5 separate regions of the Homo sapiens genome follow, and regions 1, 2, 3 and 4 are each linked to region 5. Evidence: fine-mapped expression QTL. A gene starts in region 5. Each other region holds a variant in brackets. All regions are shown on one strand. Distances are from middle to middle.

What was found. PIP is the estimated chance that this variant, and not a neighbour inherited with it, causes the effect.
Region 1: its variant is fine-mapped to the expression of FAM30A in whole blood (TOPMed, PIP above 0.99).
Region 2: its variant is fine-mapped to the expression of FAM30A in whole blood (TOPMed, PIP above 0.99). The same link has a PIP of 0.9 or more in blood mononuclear cells.
Region 3: its variant is fine-mapped to the expression of FAM30A in whole blood (INTERVAL, PIP above 0.99).
Region 4: its variant is fine-mapped to the expression of FAM30A in whole blood (TOPMed, PIP 0.95).

The regions. Positions count from the first base shown.
Region 1 is chr14:105,986,270-105,990,388 of GRCh38, forward strand. It overlaps IGH and IGHV1-2. Among named protein-coding and RNA genes, the nearest start is that of FAM30A, 70 kb to the left of the region's middle. The variant G/T (reference allele first, on the strand shown) is at 1,794.
Region 2 is chr14:105,923,397-105,927,515 of GRCh38, forward strand. FAM30A (family with sequence similarity 30 member A) reads left to right here. Exons shown (of 6, transcript NR_026800.2): 6 at 940-4,119. It also overlaps IGH. Among named protein-coding and RNA genes, the nearest start is that of FAM30A, 7.5 kb to the left of the region's middle. The variant C/G (reference allele first, on the strand shown) is at 1,978.
Region 3 is chr14:105,904,929-105,909,047 of GRCh38, forward strand. It overlaps IGH and IGHD2-8. Among named protein-coding and RNA genes, the nearest start is that of FAM30A, 11 kb to the right of the region's middle. The variant G/A (reference allele first, on the strand shown) is at 1,660.
Region 4 is chr14:105,968,231-105,972,349 of GRCh38, forward strand. It overlaps IGH and the pseudogene ADAM6. Among named protein-coding and RNA genes, the nearest start is that of FAM30A, 52 kb to the left of the region's middle. The variant C/T (reference allele first, on the strand shown) is at 1,877.
Region 5 is chr14:105,915,454-105,919,572 of GRCh38, forward strand. It overlaps FAM30A (family with sequence similarity 30 member A), which reads left to right and starts at 2,526. Exons shown (of 6, transcript NR_026800.2): 1 at 2,526-3,364. It also overlaps IGH, IGHD2-2 and IGHD1-1.

The DNA of each region.
Region 1 (4,119 bases), 71 kb after region 5:
GCAGGAGAATTGCTTGAACCTGGGAGGTGGAGGTTGTAGTGAGCTGAGATTGTGCCGTTACACTCCAGCCTGGGTGGCAGAGTGAGACTCTGTCACAAACAAACCAAAAAAAAAAAAAAAAATGAAAAAACTGAAAAAACAAAGTTCCCATATAATTAGAGTATATACTTCTATTGTTACTTTTTTTCAATTTATTAATGACATACTGTAAACAACATTAAAAATAGTAATCCCTTTCATTTCTCAGCCCCAGCACAGCTGCCTCCTCCCTGGGGTTTCTGACACCCTCAGGATGTGGGTTTTCACACTGTGTCTCTCGCACAGTAATACACGGCCGTGTCGTCAGATCTCAGCCTGCTCAGCTCCATGTAGGCTGTGCTGATGGACGTGTCCCTGGTCATGGTGACCCAGCCCTGAAACTTCTGTGCATAGTTTGTGCCACCACTGTTAGGGTTGATCCATCCCATCCACTCAAGCCCTTGTCCAGGGGCCTGTCGCACCCAGTGCATATAGTAGCCGGTGAAGGTGTATCCAGAAGCCTTGCAGGAGACCTTCACTGAGGCCCCAGGCTTCTTCACCTCAGCCCCAGACTGCACCAGCTGCACCTGGGAGTGGGCTCCTGTGGAGAGAACACAGAAGTGGATGAGATCTCCCTGGACTGGACTCAATCTCTTTCTCATCACTGGGACTAGGGAGCCTCTTACCTGTGGCTGCTGCCACCAAGAAGAGGATCCTCCAGGTCCAGTCCATGGTGAGGAACGGAGCTCTCAGGGGATTCTCTAGAGGACAGATGTGGTTGCTGGGTGATGCTCTCAGGGCACAGGACAGATCTGTATTTACTTCAGTAAATCTCAGGTTATTTGCATATTCATGAGGGATACTATTTCATAGCTCTAGACTTGATCCAAGATGAGAAAGAGAACACACATAATTTATGGGCCATGCAACAGTGGGACGCTGAAGTCCCTGTCCCAATCCTTGTTTAATGATGTGTGTCCCCTTGTATGCCCAGAACTCTGCTAAAATAGATTGTCTGCTGAAAACAAGTTCCCGCAGAACATGGTCCTCCAAGTGAACCCATACTTAAATGGCACTTTGACACCTTCATACTTTTCTGGGCTTTGCTTTCTGCATGTCTTACTACTGTCTCTGTTAAGATTGGCAAGCACTGAATTAATAAAACCATCCCTTTTCTCCATCTCCTACCTATTAAGATATCTGAAAATCCTAGAAATTTCTCCTTTTACATGTGATTCTCATTGACTTGTTAGGTTAGATAAATCCTACAAATAGAACTGTATACTGAAAGACACAAAGACACATCAATAGTCTTTACTAAAGTCTTGTTTAACTTATTAAAGCATGTTTGTCCGAGAAAAGGAAGACATCAGACCCTGGGAGGAACCCCTCCCCAGCCTCCCTTGCACCTGCTCCAGGGCTGCAGCCTGTGCTGGGCGAGGCCCTAGCGCTCCCTGCCACCCAGACCTTGCACTGCAGGGAGCTTCCCATTGGGTCTCACAGAGCATTTTTCTCTCAGCCTCTGTAGCTCACTAGGAAGTGACTGTGACCTGGCTCAGAATGCTCCTTCAGTGACAACATGAGCTGATGACACCACCTCTTGAAATAGTGAATGGGCCTTTGGAAACCCAATGTCCTCTTCAGGGTGGCTCCAAGAGAAGAATCGCTAAAATCACCAGGGAGTCCACTTCCTGGAGGTCTAGATGCACTGGATCACTGGAAACAAAGGGAGGCTAAAACTCTGGGGGGGTTGGAGGTGGCTCTTTTCTCATTTC[G/T]GCTCTTGCAGATGAATACTGCATCTGAGAATACCTGAAGCTGCAGATGGATGTGGATTAAAGCTCACTCCACGTCCGCTGTTCCAATAACTCCTACTCAAACACACAGAAACACAAACACAAACATTCTCACACACACTGTGGCTGATTTTCACAGTTATGGACCCCTAATTTTTCCTTCTTCGTAGTATCTTACTCACGGGAAGTGCCGCCGACCCTGACCCTAGGCCTCAGTATGTGACTTTCTTTCTCAAACAGATCTAAAGCAATCACACTGCCCTCTTTAATCCATATTAATGATGCTGTTGAGGAGGTAATGTGTGGGGCAGGGGAGCATGGTATGTTCTTACAGTTGACTCTCCCTGGTTTGGTTGCCCTCTTCTCCTGAGCAGTGACCTTCACAAGGAATCTCCAGTGATACAGCTGATTTTCTCTCTTTCCTCCCTTCTGCAGATGCTGCACCCAGGGCTACCGCCTTGAATCTGACTCCTCTTGGCTAATTTTATCATTTGCGTGATAGAGGAAGGCTGAGGAGGAGGGGTCTGTAATTTGGAAGTATTTCCTTCCCCCACATAAACTAAGATTTTGGAGAATACCTTCCCTTGGATGAGCTTTCTAGAAAAGTCTTTTTGTGCATCTTTTCTCCGTGATTACTCCTCCCCAGTTCATGGCTATAGGGAATCTATTTTAATTGCTTCCACGAGAACCTGAAGGCCCTGGAGGGCAAGTCCACACAAGTGTGGGGTGTACAGCCTCTAGGAGTGCTCACCCTCCCCCTAGTCCACATTTGTCCTCCAGACATTCAGCATAATCACCAGGTAAATGTTCTCACCAATGTGTCTCCAGGAGCTTCCCTTCCAAGTCAGCAAGTCTCTGCTGTGACTGTGGATGTGCCTGTCTCTACAGCTTTTGGAGGGAGTAGTTTTTTCAGCAATTTCAGCTCTTAGATGGATTAAAAAATACTTGATATTTAGATGGTTTGGAGATATATATATATAAAAATATATATGTATAATATATATAAATATACATATTATATAATATATAAATATACATATTATATATTATATATACATATTATATATAATATATAAATATGTATGTATAATATATAAAAATATACATATATATTATATAAAATATATATATAATATATAATATATATTTATTATATATATATATATATATATATATAAATTTTTTTTTTTTTTTAGATGGAGGCTCACTCTGTCGCCCAGGCTGGAGTGAAGTGGTGCGATCTCAGCTCACTTCAATCTCCACCTCCTGGGTTCAAGCAATTCTCCTGCCTCAGCCTTTCAAGTAGCTGGGATTACAGGCTAGTGCCACCACGCCTGGCTAATTTTTGTATATATTTTTTAGTAGAGACGGGGTTTCACCATGTTCACCAGGCTGGTCTCAAATTCCTGACCTCAAGTGATTCCTCTGCCTTGGCTTCCCAAAGTGCTGGGATTACAGGCCTGAGCCTATGTGCTCCTCTGGTTCAGATGTTTTTTGATGTAGAAATGGAGCTAATGACTTTTAAGATCATCACATATGTCAGCAAAACCCTGAAGTCCCCTAAGAGGTCATGTGTGTTCTGGTACTGGAAGCAGAACCCTAATCTCCCTACACAAAAGTGACATCTGGACAGACACAACTGAACATGTGGGGACAAAGGGAATGGCACAGCAGGACACTTATGAGGAAGTTTCAACAGTTTCCTTTTTATTCAGAGGAAGCTGCAGCAGGTGAGAGCTGGTTATACCTCAGGCGATGTCATTTTCTGGAAGGCTGTTCTTGCTCTTGTGCTGGATCAAGTGGATGCACCTGGGCCCTCACACCTGGAACAGGAACTCTCATTCCTTAACACAAGGTGCTCGGTGAGACAGTTGCTTCCAGCTGAAGTGCAGAGAAAGGGGAGAGAAGGAGTTGTCTCTGGTGTCCCAGGATGTGTGTCAACTCTAGGATAAGGTCACCTTGGAGGGGCAGTGGTCTACCTTAGGGGATTACATCAGTTCTGCCTTCAATAACCTGTGGCTGTGGTCAGGAGTGTGACTCATCCCCTTCTGCTCCTCCTACCTGCCTTTCATTAAATGTGCAATGAATGAGTGATCCCTCACCAGAGAGTGTCATGGTCTAAACATCATGATCTCACACAATAACATCCCCACACCCAATCTCAAATACATTATAGACCCCACTCAATCAGCAATTGGCAAATAATTTGCTCTTGTAGATTTGGTGAATACATTTGCTCGGCGTTCATTTCAACAGCCTCTCAGCCACATTTAGCAAAGTGATTGACAAAAATGAACATGTCTCTATC
Region 2 (4,119 bases), 7.9 kb after region 5:
TTTCCTTATGTGTGCTAGCCATTTGTTTTCTTTTAGAAATTGTGTTATATCCTTTTTGCCGATTTCTTAAGGGATTTGTTCTTTTTCTTATTAGCTTATGTATGTTGTTTGCATAATAATGGTACAAGACCTTTACATATTAGATTAATATTATTTGAGTTTATTATTTACTCTTGTTTTGATGATTTTTAAATGTAAAGAATCTGTAAAGGTGTTACCTAGCTTCATGATTTGGGTTTGCAGTGAAGCCTGCCCAACTTTAGGCAGCTGTCTGGGCCTGTGTTTCCAGAGCTTGAAGGAGTCTCTGCTTCCCTCTGGAGGGCTGGTGTGATATCAGTGTTCTCTGTCCAGGCCTGGGTGCCCTCCTGGGTCTGGGCTTGGGCTGGGCTCTTAGATGTCTCAGAGAAATTGAGACTCTATTAATCATCTGAGTCTTTCCATTTCTGGTGAGATGATCATGGGTCATCATTGGCCTGAGTGGTGGGATGAGCTATAAATAGTTCTAAATTCCTGGTGTAAGTCCTTGTTCAACGAGATGGACAGAATTTGGCCTTCTAGGATGTCATTTATAACATTTGGCTCTTTGCCAAAATGCAAGTTAGCCCATGTTTTACTCTGGGGACTGTGAATTGTGATCCCTTTAATAGACTTTCCCATGTTCCTCCAAATCCTGGAGCAGTTCTTATGGGAACTGATTAGTTTTGTGAAAGTCTAAACTTCACCCATAAAGCCATCTTGGCCTGAAGTCATCTGTGAGGGCAATTATTTAATAATCTTAATGCTTTCTTGAGGATTACTGTTCCAATTATGATTTCCATTTCTCCTTGAGTCAGCTTTAAGTTTTATTGCTAGAAAAGAAAAATGCCAACTTGCCGTCATCTCTGCTGTCACTATTTTGTGTTCAACAATTGCCTTCTCTATCTGCTGTATCTTTTTCAGCACAGAAGCTGTAATGTTATTAAACAAAGCAATGTATCCAGATCACTCAGAATCTATGCCTGTCACGGGGAGCAGGAGAAGAGGGTGAATGAAGAGCCACAGCATGGCAGGGGAGCCACTGCAAGGATGCTGAAACTCGTGTGAACAGAGTTGCTGTAGGCAGGCTGCTATGGAACCTTTTGGGGAAGCACTGCCTCTTAGGGATGGCAGTGAAAATGGGAGAAGAGGGTGGCATTGCCTCCAGATGGAAGATGTAGTGCTTTGCCTTGCTCCTTGGTGCTTGGAGAGGGAAAGGGATGCTGCTGTAAAGTTCCTGGCTGGACTTTGGCTTGATAAAGCACGGGCACCTTTGGGAGTATGAGGGTGGGTGGGTGTGCACATCTTCCATGAGGAGCTGTTAGTATTGGGGCAGACGTTTCAAGTATGGCAGACAAAGGATGTTCTGCGTGGGGAAATGTGGTGACACCCATTTCACAAGGACAGCTCACATAGATTGAGTGCTCAGGAAGGACCAGCACCATACCCAGTGCCTGATGTGTATCATCTCAATTAGTCCTTGCCTCAGATGCAAAAGGAAACCATCGCCATCATCATCACCACCATCATCATCTTCCTCCTGTGCAGATGGAAAGGCTGAGGCATAGAGAGGTGACGGAGTCTGCCCAGGACTGCAAGCCTGCTGGTGGCAGAGCCAGGTTCCAATGGAATGAAGGCTGTCATCCTCAGATGGCAGGGTAGGCAGGTGGCTAGAGCTCACTTGGGAGAAGGGGAAAGGACACTGACTTTGGCTAGGGATGGAGCAGAGCTTGGGCTGGCTTTCCATGCACGGGCAGGGGGCGTGGCTCATGGCTACGCTCCAGCCCCGGGTGTGGACATTGAATCTTCCAGGTCTACCCTAGGCTATGGGTCTGGACAGCACTGTGATGGAAAGAAGACACTCTATGTCCTGCATTCTGTGACCAATGATGTGACTGTGGGAATGGCGCTGGCATCTGGCTGCCACTCTGGGACGGGTGGCCAGCTGCCATCAGGCCCCAC[C/G]CAGGATGGGACCACCATGCGACTTCTTCCCTCGCTCCTCCTGGTCATGTCCAGAGCCCCAGGAGGACCAGCAAAGCCTCTCGAGCCGATGGCAGCTCACGTTCTACCTTGTCAGCTACTCCTCTCCTGGGCAACATTGGCTGCTTGCTGTGGCTCTCCCCGGGGTATGTGACTGCCTCTGTGCTGGGCACCTGGCCTGGGCTTTCCTTCTGGGCCTGGGCAGCTGGGCTCAGCTTGGACCCAGGCAGCAGCCACAGAGGGGCCCATGGAGGTGACAGAGTTGCTTCTATGATGGTGAACGGGCAGCTGTGACACGGAGGAGGCGACCACTCCTCAGTTTCCAAGTGCTGCGGTCAGGGCCGGGGCCAGCAAAGTCCCTCCCATATTCAAAGAGTGGGTTTGGGTTTGTCCCAGGAGGACATAGTCAGGAGCCCATGCTGGCACATGCCTCCTCCAAAGTTCAGCCTGGATCCCCAGCCTCTGCCAACGGCCCCGCTCCTTAGCTAACCCAGCTTGCTCCTGGGTTCCACGGCGGAGTCAGATGTTTCTGGGCAGTTTCACCTTTGTGCCTTAAATGCATGTTGAGGACTTTAAGGAATTGTGGAGAAATAGGGCTGTGGCAAAGGCAAGTGACAACTGGGAACAATGATCCTGCAGAGGCTGCTGAGGCCTGGGCCCCAGGGGCGTGGGTTCATCCTTCTGCCTGGGCTTTGGTGGGAGGGGCAGACTCTGTGGTCTGAGACACAAAAAAACCCAAAACATACGTGTGTACAGACACACAGCAGAGCCACACACACACTTGTGCCCATGCACACACTCACAGGAGGCCCGTGGACTCCGCACAGGGAAGAAACTCCTCCGGTCGACAGTGGACGGCGCTGCAGCAGGGACTCACCCCCAAGCCCTGCCTGCCTCCCATTGCCCACCTGGCCCTGGCTTGATGGGCTTATCTCATGCTGTGGCCGGGGACCTCTTGCTTCCTGCAACCCCTTGCTGGACTGGGGCCTGGGCCTCTCCTGGGCTGTGCCTAGGGTTTGTAACCCAGGGCCTGTGCCGGCGTGCACAGAGCATCTCTCCCTGGGAGGCTCAGGGCTGCCTCCTCGAGCTCTGTGGGCCTGCACTGGCCGGTGAGCTTGTGGTGTGGGTTTTCAGGCTGTATCCTTCTACCTCCTGAGCCCAGGGGTCCCAGGCGCCCTGCAGCTGTCTCCTCGGCCATCCTGTGGGGCCCCGAGGCCTTGCCCTCACTTCAGTGCCTGGGTGCTCAGGCTTTGCCCAGGTGCCAGGAGAAGGTGTGAGCATGAGCCTATTGGACACACCTGGCGACGTATACCAGGTGTCCCACCCCTGCCACCATGGGGCCTCCCGATACGGCAACCACCACGGACCTGTGGGGACCAATGAGGAAAGAGAGAGGCAGGTCTGGGCCAGGCTCACAGGGACTCCGGCATAGCAGACCCTGCCCCAGCAGGCCCCCTTGTCCTTCCTGGGTCCTGGTCCTTCATGAGGAACTAGCCCATCCCTGGTGGGGCTCCCACCCCGCTTCTCAGTGGGCTCTATGCTTGCCTCGTCGGAGTCACCCCTCAGGCAGTCCTGGGATCCTCTCCTTTAGACCCACTGTGCCTTCCCGGCCTCCCGGGCTTCTGCTGGGGGCAGAAGAAATGCCTCCCCAGGTCTGTCTCTGGAGGCTCTGAGGGAGATGGGCTTGGGGGCTGTAGGAGGAGGCAGGGATTCCAGGGTGTCAGGAAGGCAGGGGTGCCAGGTCCCACCTAGTGAAGTAATAAACCGTGGGTGGTGATAGTGACCCAGTGCCCTCACTGCCCAGCCCCGCCTGTCCTCAGCCAGCACTGCAGGGATCCCAGGCCCAGACTCTGGAGGCCTTCACTGATCCCAGCCACCCCAGAAAAGCTGCAGCCTGCAGGCACCAGCCGGGCCATATGCCCAGTGCCAGCTAGGGCCCACCGCCCATCCTGCACACGGGGCCGCTGGGCAGGTGCCCCTCACACCCCCAGGATGTCAGTGCTCACCTCGAGCAAAGCGCCCCAGCTCGGCCTTGGGAGGTGGTCGTGTCCAGGGGGATGATGGAGAGCTGTCCAACCAAGAGAGCGGGAGGGAGGGAAGGAGGGAGGGAGAGAGATAGAGAGA
Region 3 (4,119 bases), 11 kb before region 5:
CTATGTCCCTACCCACCCCATGGCCATGTCCTTTCGGGTTCATAAGTTGCCCACAAATCACAGAGTCATCATTCTGGAGATTTTTATATTCCCAGGGCCACCAGCTGCCTCCACCCAGAAAGGTCAGATGTGGGAGACTTCTAGAGTCATTCCCCAACCCTGGATGAGCTTCTGCACCCTCAGTGCTACTCAGGCTCCAGCAAGACCTGGAGCAGGTGCAGGTGAGGCCCGAGGCCAGGTGAGGTCCAGGTCAGGTGAAGCCCAGGCCAGGTGAAGTCCAGGCCAGGTGAGGTCCAGGCCAGATGAGGTCCAGGTCAGGTGAGGCCCAGGCCAGGTGAAGCCCAGGCCAGATGAGGTCCAGGTCAGGGGAAGCCAAGGCCAGGTGAGTTCCAGGACAGGTTAAACCCAGGTCAGGAGACGTTCAGGTGAGTTGAGGCCCAGGTCAGGTAAAGCTTGGGACAGGCGAGGTCCAAGTCAGGTGAGGCCAAGGTCAGGTGAAGCCCAGGTTAAGTGAGGCCCAGGCCAGTGAGGTCCAGGTCAGGGGAGGCTGAGGTGGATGTGTGAGGCGTCTGCAGTTTTCTCTGGGTGCTCACCCTGCCTGGTGTCCCTGCCCCTCCTCTCAGCACCCACTCTGTGCCTGCAAGGTGGTGGCCCGTGCACAGGTGGTGCTGGCTGCGGAGGTGCTGGGCTCTGCCTCCCTGTGCGTGGGCGTCCCTCTCGGGCTCTGCCTGGGGAGTGTGGCTGAGTTGCTTCTCTCTGGAATTCACTGACTGTGCCGTCCTCCGGGATATATGGCCCTGCGCTTGCTCCACATCAGGCCCCAGGAACTGCCAGCAGGTACCCGCCTGCCCTGCTGCACAGTGAGCCTGCAACCTGTCCGGGGATCCCAGGGAGGTGAATGCCACCACACATCAGCCCTTTATCTCTTTAAAGTCGTTTATTTGGGGATACATCATCGATGTCTCATATACTAAATATATGTCTGTATCATTGTGCAATTGCCTGTGTCATCGCTTATTTATCCGACCTGGGTTAATGTCTTTGCTATTATGAACAGTGCTGGACTGAGAATTTTCTAAACACAACTGTGTCCATTTTCCTCTTCTTGCAATTTAGAAGTTTAACTGCTGTTTTCAAGGTACTGTAATGTATTCGTTCTGTTCTTGTTAGGAGACTTGCCCACCCTGTGTATCTCAGTTCATACCCTCTTCCTTCCCCAGCAGAAGTAACCACCACTGTGTTTATGTGATCATCCTTTTCTTGGTTTTCTTTATGGTTTTCTAACTGGGAAATGTATCCCTTAAGAAGACAGTTCATTTTGCAGGGTGTAAATTTTATTTAGAAGAAATCACATTGAAAGTATTTTTTGGAGTTTACTTTGTTACTCCAATTACTCAGCATTGTCATGAACTCAACCAGAGTCGCTTATAACCCTGTACTTTTGTGCTTGTGGCTGTCTGGGTTTGCATTTCATGAACCTGCCATCGTTTATTTGCCTGTTCTCCTTCAGATGGACGTTTGCTTTGCTCTCAGTTTGGGGCTATGAGAAACACCTGTTGTGCACATCTTTGCCCATGAGGCTCTCAGGGAGGGCTCTGGGGCTGGCATTGCCTGAGGGTTCTGCTTTGTCACAGGGAGTTCCTGCCAGGGCTTTTCAGA[G/A]TGTCTGTGCCCAGCAGCAATGCCTGAAGGTGCCCACTGAACTTTGTCCTTGCATCAGGCACTTTCTGTGTGCTTGCTTCTGTGCTGCTCCACATTCTGGAGAATTTATTCAGATCTGTGCTGCAAATCCATCTCACTGATTCTCTCTTTAGCTGTGTCTACATCAGCTGTTAAGCATCCCATGATGCAGCAGTGTGGGCACAAGGCAAACTTTCGAAAGATGACAGTGTAGGATAGCGGCTGCTCCTCCTTCCCTGTGCTCTTCCCACGCTGTCCTCCTGGGCTCACTCCCAGCCATTGATCTCGAACACCAGTTTATGGAACTCTCTGCACAGGAAAGCAGAAACAGCAAAAGGCCCTGCTCAGGCTCTGCCCGCATCCCCTCTTACACACCCGCCAAAGCTCTTTCCTTGGGGCCTGTGCAAGCTTCCCCAGCTTGCTTCTCATTTTCTGTTTACTCTGCTCGCTGGCTGGTGGGTGTGATGTATGGAGGGGAGTCTGGTGCGTTTTGGGCATTGATGGACACCCCTGAGCCCTATTTCCCAGACGCTCCCCCAGCCCCTCAGCCCCAGAAGTGGAATGCGTTTGCAGTAGGGCTTTGGGAATGGGGCTGTGTCACTGTGGGTATAGCATACACCATTAGTACAATATCCTCACAGTGACACGAGCCCCCACAAAATCCTCCTGTCCCTGCGGGTGTCACTGAGCCCCATCTTGCTGGCTCTGGCTGGCTCTCCTGCTGAGACTGTGCATTCCAGGGGGTTTTTGTCTGAAACTCTGGGTGTCTTGGAGAGGACTCTGAGCCCAGTGCTGAACAAGGGGCTCCTCCTTTGTCCTGGGGGAGTTGCATGGATCCTGTCTTCGGTCAAGGGAAGCGCCTGCTGGTGAAGGAGACCTCCCCTCCTCTGTTCTGCCAGAGCCCCCTCTGATGCTGTTGCCTGGTGTTTCTTGGTTGGTTCTGGTGCTGGGTCTCAGCAGTCTCTGCCCTGGTCCAGGTGGGACTGTGGGTCTGTCCTCTTTCCATGGGGTGTTGTGGGACCACCAGTGAGTGGCTTGGGATGTCAGTGGCTGTCCTCTGGCCCTATGGTGTGGGCTCGGGCTCACTGCTCCCCTGCCTCCAGGTCTGGCAATGACTCCGTTACTACCCATCGGCCTCCAGGGAGGTTTGGTGTTAGACTCCGTTGACTGGGCGTCTTCAGGTCTCTTCCCAGGAGAGGCCTGTGAGAGGACTGGGATGTCTGGTAGCCCTGCATTCTCCTGTGATGCTGCTGCCTGGATCCCTCGTCTTTAGAGGGAGTGCCGAGCCTCCCTGCAGGTGCGGGCAGTGAGAGACACAGGCAGACGTGTGTCAAGGCGCTGGAGGCCGATTTCTTTCAGTGCCTTCTGCCTGTGGAAGGGCTGAGCTCCCTGCTTCTGTGCACAGGAGGCTGCCCTGTAACCGGGCAGTGAGGGTAAGGGCCCAGGCCTGCATGGGAAAGACTTGGGTAAGGCTTTGTCCCAGAAATACCAGAGCCAGGCCTGAGAGGGGAGTGGGGCTGGAGTGGCCAGGAGGAATGTGAGGGCATGGGCAGTGTGTGGGTGCGAGGGCACGGTCAATGCCATCCCTCAGGGGCCCTAGGAGAGGAAGAGCTCGAGCTGTGGGCAGGAGGAGCACGGGGGTGGGCACAGGCAGGAGAAACTGAGGGTCTTTGGCAGTGGAGGGGAGGGCCTGCAGGTGTAGGGTTGGCCTGGGAGAGGTGTTTAGAGGGAGGAAGACGGGTCTAGGTAGAGAACTGGGTGGGGGCTGTAGGGACAGGACCCCAGGGCTGTCTTGGTGGGTGGCAAGAGCAGCGGGGGAGAAAGGGCTGGAGGAGGGTCAGGTCTCCCCAGGGTGTGGGCTGCAGGGTCGGGTCTCCCCAGGGTGTGGACTGCAGGGAGGAGCTGCACAGGGTGCTCCCCCGAAGGAAGGAGGAGGGAGGAAGCACAGAGGCATTGGAAGTGAATGGAGAAGGAAATGGCAGTGACCTGAGTGCCAGGTGGTCCCCGTCTGGGGTTGGTCTGTGTGGGAACAGCTTCCTGGCCTGTGTGTAAGTGGACGGGGGAGGGCAACGAGGTCTGGGGCAGGAAGTCGTAGCAGCAAGGCAGGTCCCGGGCCTGGGGGTCTGGAGCTTATCTTCTTCCTGTGAGCTGTGTGTGGGCGGCCCCAGTGTGGGCGGTGCCCTAGACCTGTGGTCTGGTGGAGCCCAGGCCTCCCAGGGACAGCAGGGCAGCCAGGGCTAGAGGAGCCTGAGGGGCCAGGTCAGGGTGGCCCTGGGGCCACTGCCTCTACCTGTGACCAGCGCTGCTGGGGGGATCTGGGCATGAGACCCCTTCTCCCAGGAGGGGAGGTGCGTGAGTGAGACCCTAAGTCCATATCCCATGGGGGCTCTGACCCTCCTGCAGGGGGCCCGGGCAAGGGTGGGTGGGGTGTGCAGGTGGGGG
Region 4 (4,119 bases), 53 kb after region 5:
GGTCATGTTCTTTGTTAAAATACGTATCATTCTAAAAGTTCACATGGCATTAGATTTTTTGCTCAAACTACCTATAATATTTCTCCAACAGAGTGCACATTTGCCTTCCTTTCACACATACCTCCGCCCCCTGCCCTGAGCAGAGTCCCAGTGGTTCCCATCTGTTTAGGGGGTGGGGCAGGGGACACAGGCCCTGACGCGAGGTGGGGCCGTGCCAAGCGTGGTGGTCTTGCACGGGCACTGAGTGGGTGGGCCCTGGAGAGAGGAGAGGTCATTCCCCCTGGGGAACGCCCCAGGCCACAGGGGAGAGGTCAGCTGGAGCGTGAGGTGGGGGGCGGAGATGCATAAAGGGTGGGATGGGGCCTGCTGCTCTATCAGCAAAACCCCTCACACCCGAAGGACACATAGAGGGAGGGCACTGTATTCACTGACCTCACACTTAACTGTCCATTAGCGTTCACCCACAAAATAATAGAACACACTGACAGAGGCACAGGAATGGATTGCTCGCATCTTTATGACAGCTGAATGGAGGAAATTTCTAACAGGTTCAGAGAAAGGATATCAAGCTGTGTTTGGAGAAAGGGGTGGGAATTCTAAACAATATCTATGGAAGCAGGACATCTAGAACCACGGATGTATTCAGAAAAATGCTAGATCTCAGTACTACCCTAGAATACCAACAGTTTTCTGTGGATGGTATGGGAAGGGTGATTTCTTCCGTCGGTGGGCTTTGCCTTTGAAATTCTCTCTGACATATCTACACTGCATTTTAAAAGTCAATATTAGTGTGAATTTTAAGTTAAAATAAAATGTTATCTCATTCAGTTATTTATACATTTAACTTCCATTTTCCTTTACAATAACTCAGTGATACACCTAGCCCTGTTTTCCACCCGGACCAGCCTGTGCTGCTACAAGCCTGGTTTCTCTTCCTCATCACGACTTACTCAGCTTCCCTTCCTGTTTCAGTTCAAGGAAATGTGGGGGCAGGAAGAAAGGGGGCAGCTGCCACTCACAGAGCTCACACTAAATGACAGACAGCTTGCCCCTCACGTCTACCTATTTTTCTAGTTGAATTTCATTGCATGCAGCAATCGACCTCAGGGATTCATTTTCCCACATACGGGAAGCTCGGCCCCAGGTAGGGGGATTTGCTTGGTGGGGGATTTGAACCCAAGTCCCTCTCACTGAAAAGCCCACAGCACCCCCGTGAGGAACAGACAGGGAACAGGGAGTAGCCCTGGATCACCCTAAACTGACTTCGGGTTTAGAGAAGGACAGATTACCTGGGGAATGAGGAAGCTCATTGCTCTGGAGCTCTCTTCTGGAGAAATGTCATGAATGTTCCCTGTAAGGAGCTGGTGGCAACTTCCGTTAATTCTGGGACCAGAGACCTCAGGTCAAGAGCCAGATGCTCATTCATGTCTCTCCAGGCAAGAGGTTCTGGCCAAGTTTGGGCTCCCAGAGGAGTCTAAGAAAATGTGGAAGGCACCAATGTGTTTTTGAAGATTTATTTCAGAGTGAGCATCAGCGACCTACAAGAACCTGGGACAGAAGCCAATGCCTCCCGTTTCCCTGTGATGTGAAACAGGACCCTGTGCTTCCTGTGGACTTCAAGAAATGTGGACTTGAGCTTTGCCATCCCTTCCCCTGATCCTGTTTCATAGATTTTGCTGTTATATTCTCTGTATCTTTACAGGGATCGGGAGGCTGAATTAGTGTTATTCAGGGTTAGTAACTGTCCCTTCCTTAACGGTGGTGGTCCTGATAGTTCGCACATTTTTGGCTGTCCCAAAGAGCAGTGCAATTATGAAGGCGTAAATACGACCAAAGACCACTCTCAGATACATCACTGATTGCTGGCTTTGTTTGA[C/T]GGAACGTGTTCTTTTTGGAGGTGGCCCGCTGTTGACACTCCCACCAGCACCTCTTCTTAGGCACAGTGGAGGATCCCAGCCTATATGGCAATGGCAGTTCCTTCTGTTGTTGCAGACTCCTCTATGACCGCACTTCTGAGGGTGGCAGTTGTAGCCCAGTGAAGTGATAGTCACATTGCACTGGGTGTTATTACAGAAGTTTCCATGAACACAAGGAGTGCCATCTATCACACGCCCAACATCAGTCGTGTCTGTTGCATGGTGTTCATCCAGTCCAAAACACTGAAACCCTCCTCTCACTGAGTGATGGAATGAAACACGTTCCTGCAGCCGGGGAAGATGGGTCACATTGGTACACTGCAGTCTTCCACAAAACTTATCTATTCCTGCACAAGCCTGGTAGCTGAGATATGTTTGTTGTCTAATACAATGTCCAAATCGGTAGCTTTCAAGATTTATGTCATAGCAGACCTCGGGAGCATCCTCAGCACTGACACCAAAGATCGCCTTGCAGAGCACATTGCGATCAGTGCAGTTCCCACGATAGCAGTAGCCTTCTTCAGTGCACGGGGTTCCATCTTGCGTATAAACGTTTGCGGGACATGTCACGGTGGTCCCGTGACAGTACTCTGGAAGGTCACATATATTTTGGATAGGTCTGCAGAGAGTCCCTGGTGGGGAGAAGCTGCAGTTTGTACAGCACTCTCCTATATGGCAGATGCTCCCCGGTGTTAAGTGACAGTCACTTTGGCAGCAATAACTGGCATAACACTGCTTGAAGGAGCCACAGTCACATTCCTCCCTCCCCTCCACTATGAGGTTTCCACAGCGAACCGTTGTCATGGTTTCGTTATACACAGGAGCAAGTGTTTCAAAAACACACTGGCCTGAATGTATAAAACAATTTTGTGCATGTCCATAAGAACAGTTACTGAACGCATCTGTCATCCCAGGAAATCGCTGCATAATGCAGGAGGCCCTTCTCTGACATGTGCAGTAGTTATCATCATACTCCAGACCAATACTTCTCATCTGTGTCTGGGTTATTATGACGGCTACCAATAAATAATGTCTGCCTGGAGTACCAATGTGTAACAGGGCTATACGGGAACAGAAGTTATACCTTTCAGGTTCATAGTTAGATTCATGTGGCACGTATTTAATAAGTAGTGTGGATGAATGAACATGAAAAGTATCAAAAAAAGTTGTTTTAAAATAGGTAAACATTGCACTCTGAATTCGATATTCATTCACAGGGGCTGGGTCACGATTATTATATATGGTCAAAAGATAAATATAGTACCGCAGATCAATATTTTGAGCAATGCTGTCAATGAGACTGAACATCTGGACCACCTCTTTGGAACAAGTTGTAATATTGCCATATATGCGATAATATGAATTGGAACATTGAACGTGGCCTTTTATATTGCCTCTATGAGAACTATACAGCGAATTAGATATCCTGGGATTCATGCTGTCATTTGCTTCAGAGAACAGGGGGTCTGTCTCATTGTCATCATCTCTAAATGTGGGCCCTGTTGCGTTGGGCTCGGCCACTATCTGAAAAACAACATGTTCAAACCTGCGGGAATCCTGGAGGGGTTTGATTTCGTACGCAAGGTCGTCCAGCCTCATGATGCCTCTGAGGTCCCCATAGCACGTGTCGACGGTGACCATGGACAGAGGCACCTCCTCCAGGTAGCCGAGGTACTAGCAGTCTGGAGGGATGTAGGGGTCACCCATCTGCAAGACTCCTTGGTCATCCTGAGTTGTCACCAGCAGATGTCTAGGCCAAAGAAGGTGTTTCCTCCGCATGTGAATGACGTGTCTTTGACCCCAAAACACAGGCTGTAGGACAGCCAGCCGGGAAACTGAAGGCCTTTGCTATGGTGTGTCTCCTTCCTGGGAATCACCACCTCGGAGGAGGCGTAGTGCCACAAGGGACGGCCTTGAGAACACCGGACCGGAGCCAGGAGCGCCCAGAGCCCCAGCAGCAAGAGGGGGGTCCTAAGGGTGACCCGCGCCTCTGCCCGCCTCATGTCCCAGCCCAGCGATAGTCATCCAAAGACAATGGGAAAGGAAAGGACTGTCCTGGGCGAAGCCAGGCCCCAACCAGCTGCGGTGGCTGCGTCCCTCCCAGGGAGACCCTGACAGAGAACAAAGGGCCTCCCCAGGCTCCCGCACCACACCCCGGGGGGCACCTGGACTCCGGGAGGGAATGAGGTAACAGTCCCAGGGC
Region 5 (4,119 bases):
GCCACCACATATCAGGCCTTTTCTCTTTAAAGTCATTTCTTTGGGGATACATCATCAATGTCTCATATACTGAATGTATGTCTGTATCATTGTGCAATTGCCTGTGTCATCGTTTATTTATCCAACCTGGGTTAATGTCTTTGCTATTATGAACAGTGCTGGACTGAGAATTTTCTAAACACAGCTGTGTGCATTTTCCTCTTCTTGCAATTTAGAATTTTAACTGCTGTTTTCAAGGTACTGTAATGTATTTGTTCTCTTCTTGTTAGGAGACTTGCCAACCCTGTGTGTCTCAGTTCATACCCTCTTCCTTCCCCAGTAGAAGTAACGACCACTGTGTTTATGTGATCATCCTTTTCTTGATTTTCCTTATAGTTTTCCTAGTGGAAAGTTTATCCCTTAAGAAGATAGTTCATTTTGCCGGCTGTAAATTTTATTTAGAAGAAATCACATTGAAAGTATTTTTTGGACTTTCCTTTGTTACTCCAATTACTCAGCATTGTCATGAACTCAACCACAGAGTCACCTGTAACCCTCACTGTTGTCCTTCTGGCTGTCTGGGTTTGCATTTCATGAACCTGCCATCGTTTATTTGCCTGTTTTCCTTCAGATGGCTGTTTGCTTCATTCTCAGTTTGGGGCTATGACAAACATATGTTCTGCACATCTTTGCCCATGAGGCTCTCAGGGAGGGCTCTGGAGCTGGCATTGCCTGCAGGGCTCTGCTTTGTTGCAGGGAGTTCCTGCCAAGGCTTTTCAGAGTGTCTGTGCCCAGCCTGAAGGTACACACTGTACTTTGCCCTTGCATCAGGCACTTTCCTTGTGCTTGCTTCTGTGTGGCTCCACATTCTGGAGAATTTATTCAGATCTGTGCTGCAAATCCATTTCACTGATTCTCTCTTTAGCTGTGTCTACATCAGCTGTTAAGCATCCCATGATGCAGCATTGTGGGCACAGGGCAAACTCTTGAAAGATGACAGTGTAGGATAGCGGCTGCTTCTCCTTCCCTGTGCCCTTCCCACACTGTCCTCCTGGGCTCACTCCCAGCCATCGATCTTGAACACCAGTTTATGGAACTATCTGCACAGGAAAGCAGAAACAGCAAAAGGCCCTGCTCAGGCTCTGCCCGCATCCCCTCTTGCACACCCGCCAAAGCTCTTTCCTTGGGGCCTGTGCAAGCTTCCCAGCTGCTTCTCATTTTCTGTTTACTCTGCTCACTGGCCAGTGGGGTGATGTCTGGGGGGGAGTCTGGTGCGTTTTGGGCATTGATGGCCACCCCTAGGCCCTACTTCCCAGACGCTCCCCCCAGCCCCTCAGCTCCAGAAGTGGAAGCGTTTACAGCAGGGCTTTGGGAATGGGGCTGTGTCACTGTGGGCATAGCAGCTGGTACTACTACAATATCCTCACAGTGACACGAGCCCCCACAAAATCCTCCTGTCCCCGCGGGAGTCACTGAGTCCCCTCTTGCTGTCTCTGGCTAGTTCTCCTGCTGATACTATGATTTCCAGGGGGTTTTTGTCTGAAACTCAGGGTGTGTTGGAGAGGACTCTGAGCCCAGTGCTGTACAGGGGGCTCCTCCTTTGTCCTGGGGGAGTTGCGTGGACCCTGTTTTTGGTCAAGGGAAGTACTTGCTGGTGAAGGAGACCTCCCCTCCTTTCTTTCTCAGGAGCCCCCTCTGATGCCGTTGCCTGGTGTTTCTCAGGGCTGGTGCTGGGGGCTCAGCAGTGTCTGCCCTGTTCCAGGTGGGAATGTGGGTCTGTTCTGTTTCCACGCGGTGTTCTGGGGCCGCCAGTGAGGGGCTCGGGATGTCAGCGGCTGGTCTCTGTCCCTATGGTCTGGGCTCCGGTTCACTGCTCCCCTGCCCTCCAGGTCGGTCACTGACTCAGTTACTATCCAGCGGGCTCCGTGGCTGTTCAGTGGTGGCTGCAGGTCTCTTCCCAGGAGAGGCCTGCGAGAGGGCTGGGCTGTCTGGGAGCCCTGCATTCTCCCATGATGTTGCTGCCTGGATCCCTCGTCTTTACAGGGAGTGCCGAGCCTCCCTGCAGGTGCGGGCAGTGAGAGACACAGGCGGACGTGCATCAGGGTGCTGGAGGCCGATTTCTTTCAGTGCCTTCTGCCTGTGGAAGGGCTGAGCTCCCTGCTTCTGTGCACAGGAGGCTGCCGTGTAACCGGGCAGTGAGGGCAAGGGCCTGCATGGGGAAGACTTGGGTGAGCCTTTGTCCTGGAAATACCAGGGCTGGGTCCAAGAGGGGAGCAGGGTCAGAGTGTCCAGGAGGAAGGTGAGGGCATGGGCAGTGTGGGGGTGGGAGTGCACGGTCAGTGCCATGGCTCAGGGGCCCCAGGAGAGGAAGAGCTCGAGTTGTGGGCAGGAGGAGGCAGGGGGTAGGCACAGAGGGTAGAAACTGAGGCTCTGGCAGCAGAAAAGGGGAGGGCCTGCATGTGCAGGGTTGGCCTGGGAGGGGTGTCTGGAGGGAGAGACAGGGGTCTGGGTGGAGACCAGGGTGTAGGCTGCAGGGATGGGACCCCAGGGTTGTCTGGATGGGCAGGAAGAGCAGCGGGGGAGAAAGGGCTGGAGGCAGGGTTGGGCCTCCCCAGGGTGTGGGGTGCAGGGAGGGGCTGCACAGGCTGTTCCCCTGAAGGAGGGAGGAGGGAGGGAGCACAGAGGTGCTGGGAGCAAATGGAGAGGGAAGTGGCAGCGGCCCGAGTGCCAGGCGGTCCCGGTTTGGGGTTGATCTTTGTGGAACAGCTCCCTGGCCCGTGTGTAAGTGGTCGGGGGAGGCACGGAGGTCTGGAGCTACAAGCGGTGGCAGGAAGGCAGGTCCCAGTCTTGGGGGTCTGGAGCTTATCTTCTTCCTGTGAACTGAGTGTGGGCAGCACCTATGGGCGGTGCCCTGGACCTGTGGTCTGGTGGAGTCCAGGCCTCCCAGGGACAGCAGGGCAGCCAGGGCTAGAGGAGCCTGAGGGTCCAGGTCAGGGTGGCCCTGGGGCCACTGCCTCCACCTTTGACCAGCTCTGCTGTGGGGATCTGGGCATGAGACCCCTTCACCCAGGAGGGGAGCCGCGTGAGTGAGACCCTAAGTCCATACCCCATGGGGGGCTCTGACCCTCCTGCATAGGGCCTGGACAGGGGTGGGTGGGGTGTGCGGGGGGCGGTGGGGAGCCCAGACTCTCCCAGACACAGCCTGCTCTGCTCCAGAATGTGGGCTTGGGCACTGCAGGCTGGCTGGGTCTGGGCTGCCTGGTGTGCCTGTGGTGGCTGCATTCCCACAGCCGGGACTGAGGCCTAGTGAGGACCAGGGAGGAGCCTGAAGGGAGCTCCATGGAGGACCTGCCTCGGATGACACCCCTATCTTAAGAAGGTCATGGTGGGTTCCAGCTGGGAGGAAGGGAAGTGGGCCACCTCCTGGGGGTCTTCCACCCCCACCACCTCAGCCTGGGGCCTCTGTGATTCCTCTCTGCACAGACCCCAAAGTCTGTGCTGCCGCAGGGCAGGAAGGAAGGGCCTGTGGCCTGGTCGAGGTTGGGGCCACAGTGGTGTTCCCTAAGCCCGAGTCTGGTCTCATGGCCCGCCCCGCAGCAGGTCCTGAGTGAGGGACAGAGACCGGGGCGGGGTCTTTGGTCCTGGTGGACTCTGGGGTGGATTCCAGTGGGGAGTCATCAGGGTCGGTGTCCCCCAGGGTACTGGGGTGTCTCTGCTCCTGGAGTCGGCTCTGGATGTGGGGTTTATGCCTGTGCTGCCTGGGGTTGATGCTGGGAGGTGCCAGTGACCCCCGTTTCCCTGAGGGACTCTTGTCGGTGGTAGGGTCAGTTCTGGCCAGGAGCACTGGGACCATAGCAGTAGGATGGGGTCCAGCCCCTTCCATGACCCCCTGGAGCCCTGGTCCCCGTCCTCACCATTCAGTGGGGTTCAGTGGGGACTCCACTGTGCTCTGGCTGCTGGGGGTCGTGTGAGCTGAGCAGGACCTAGGTTCGGGGCGGCTGCTCCCCTCTCTGGCGCGGCCTCCAGCAGGGGCCAGGAGAGAGTTTTGGACACAGTTTTTCTCACGGTGGTCGTTCCAGTTGTACCCACCGTGACTCGGGGCTGTTCAGAATCTGCCCCGGCGCCCTGAGCTCTGGGGCC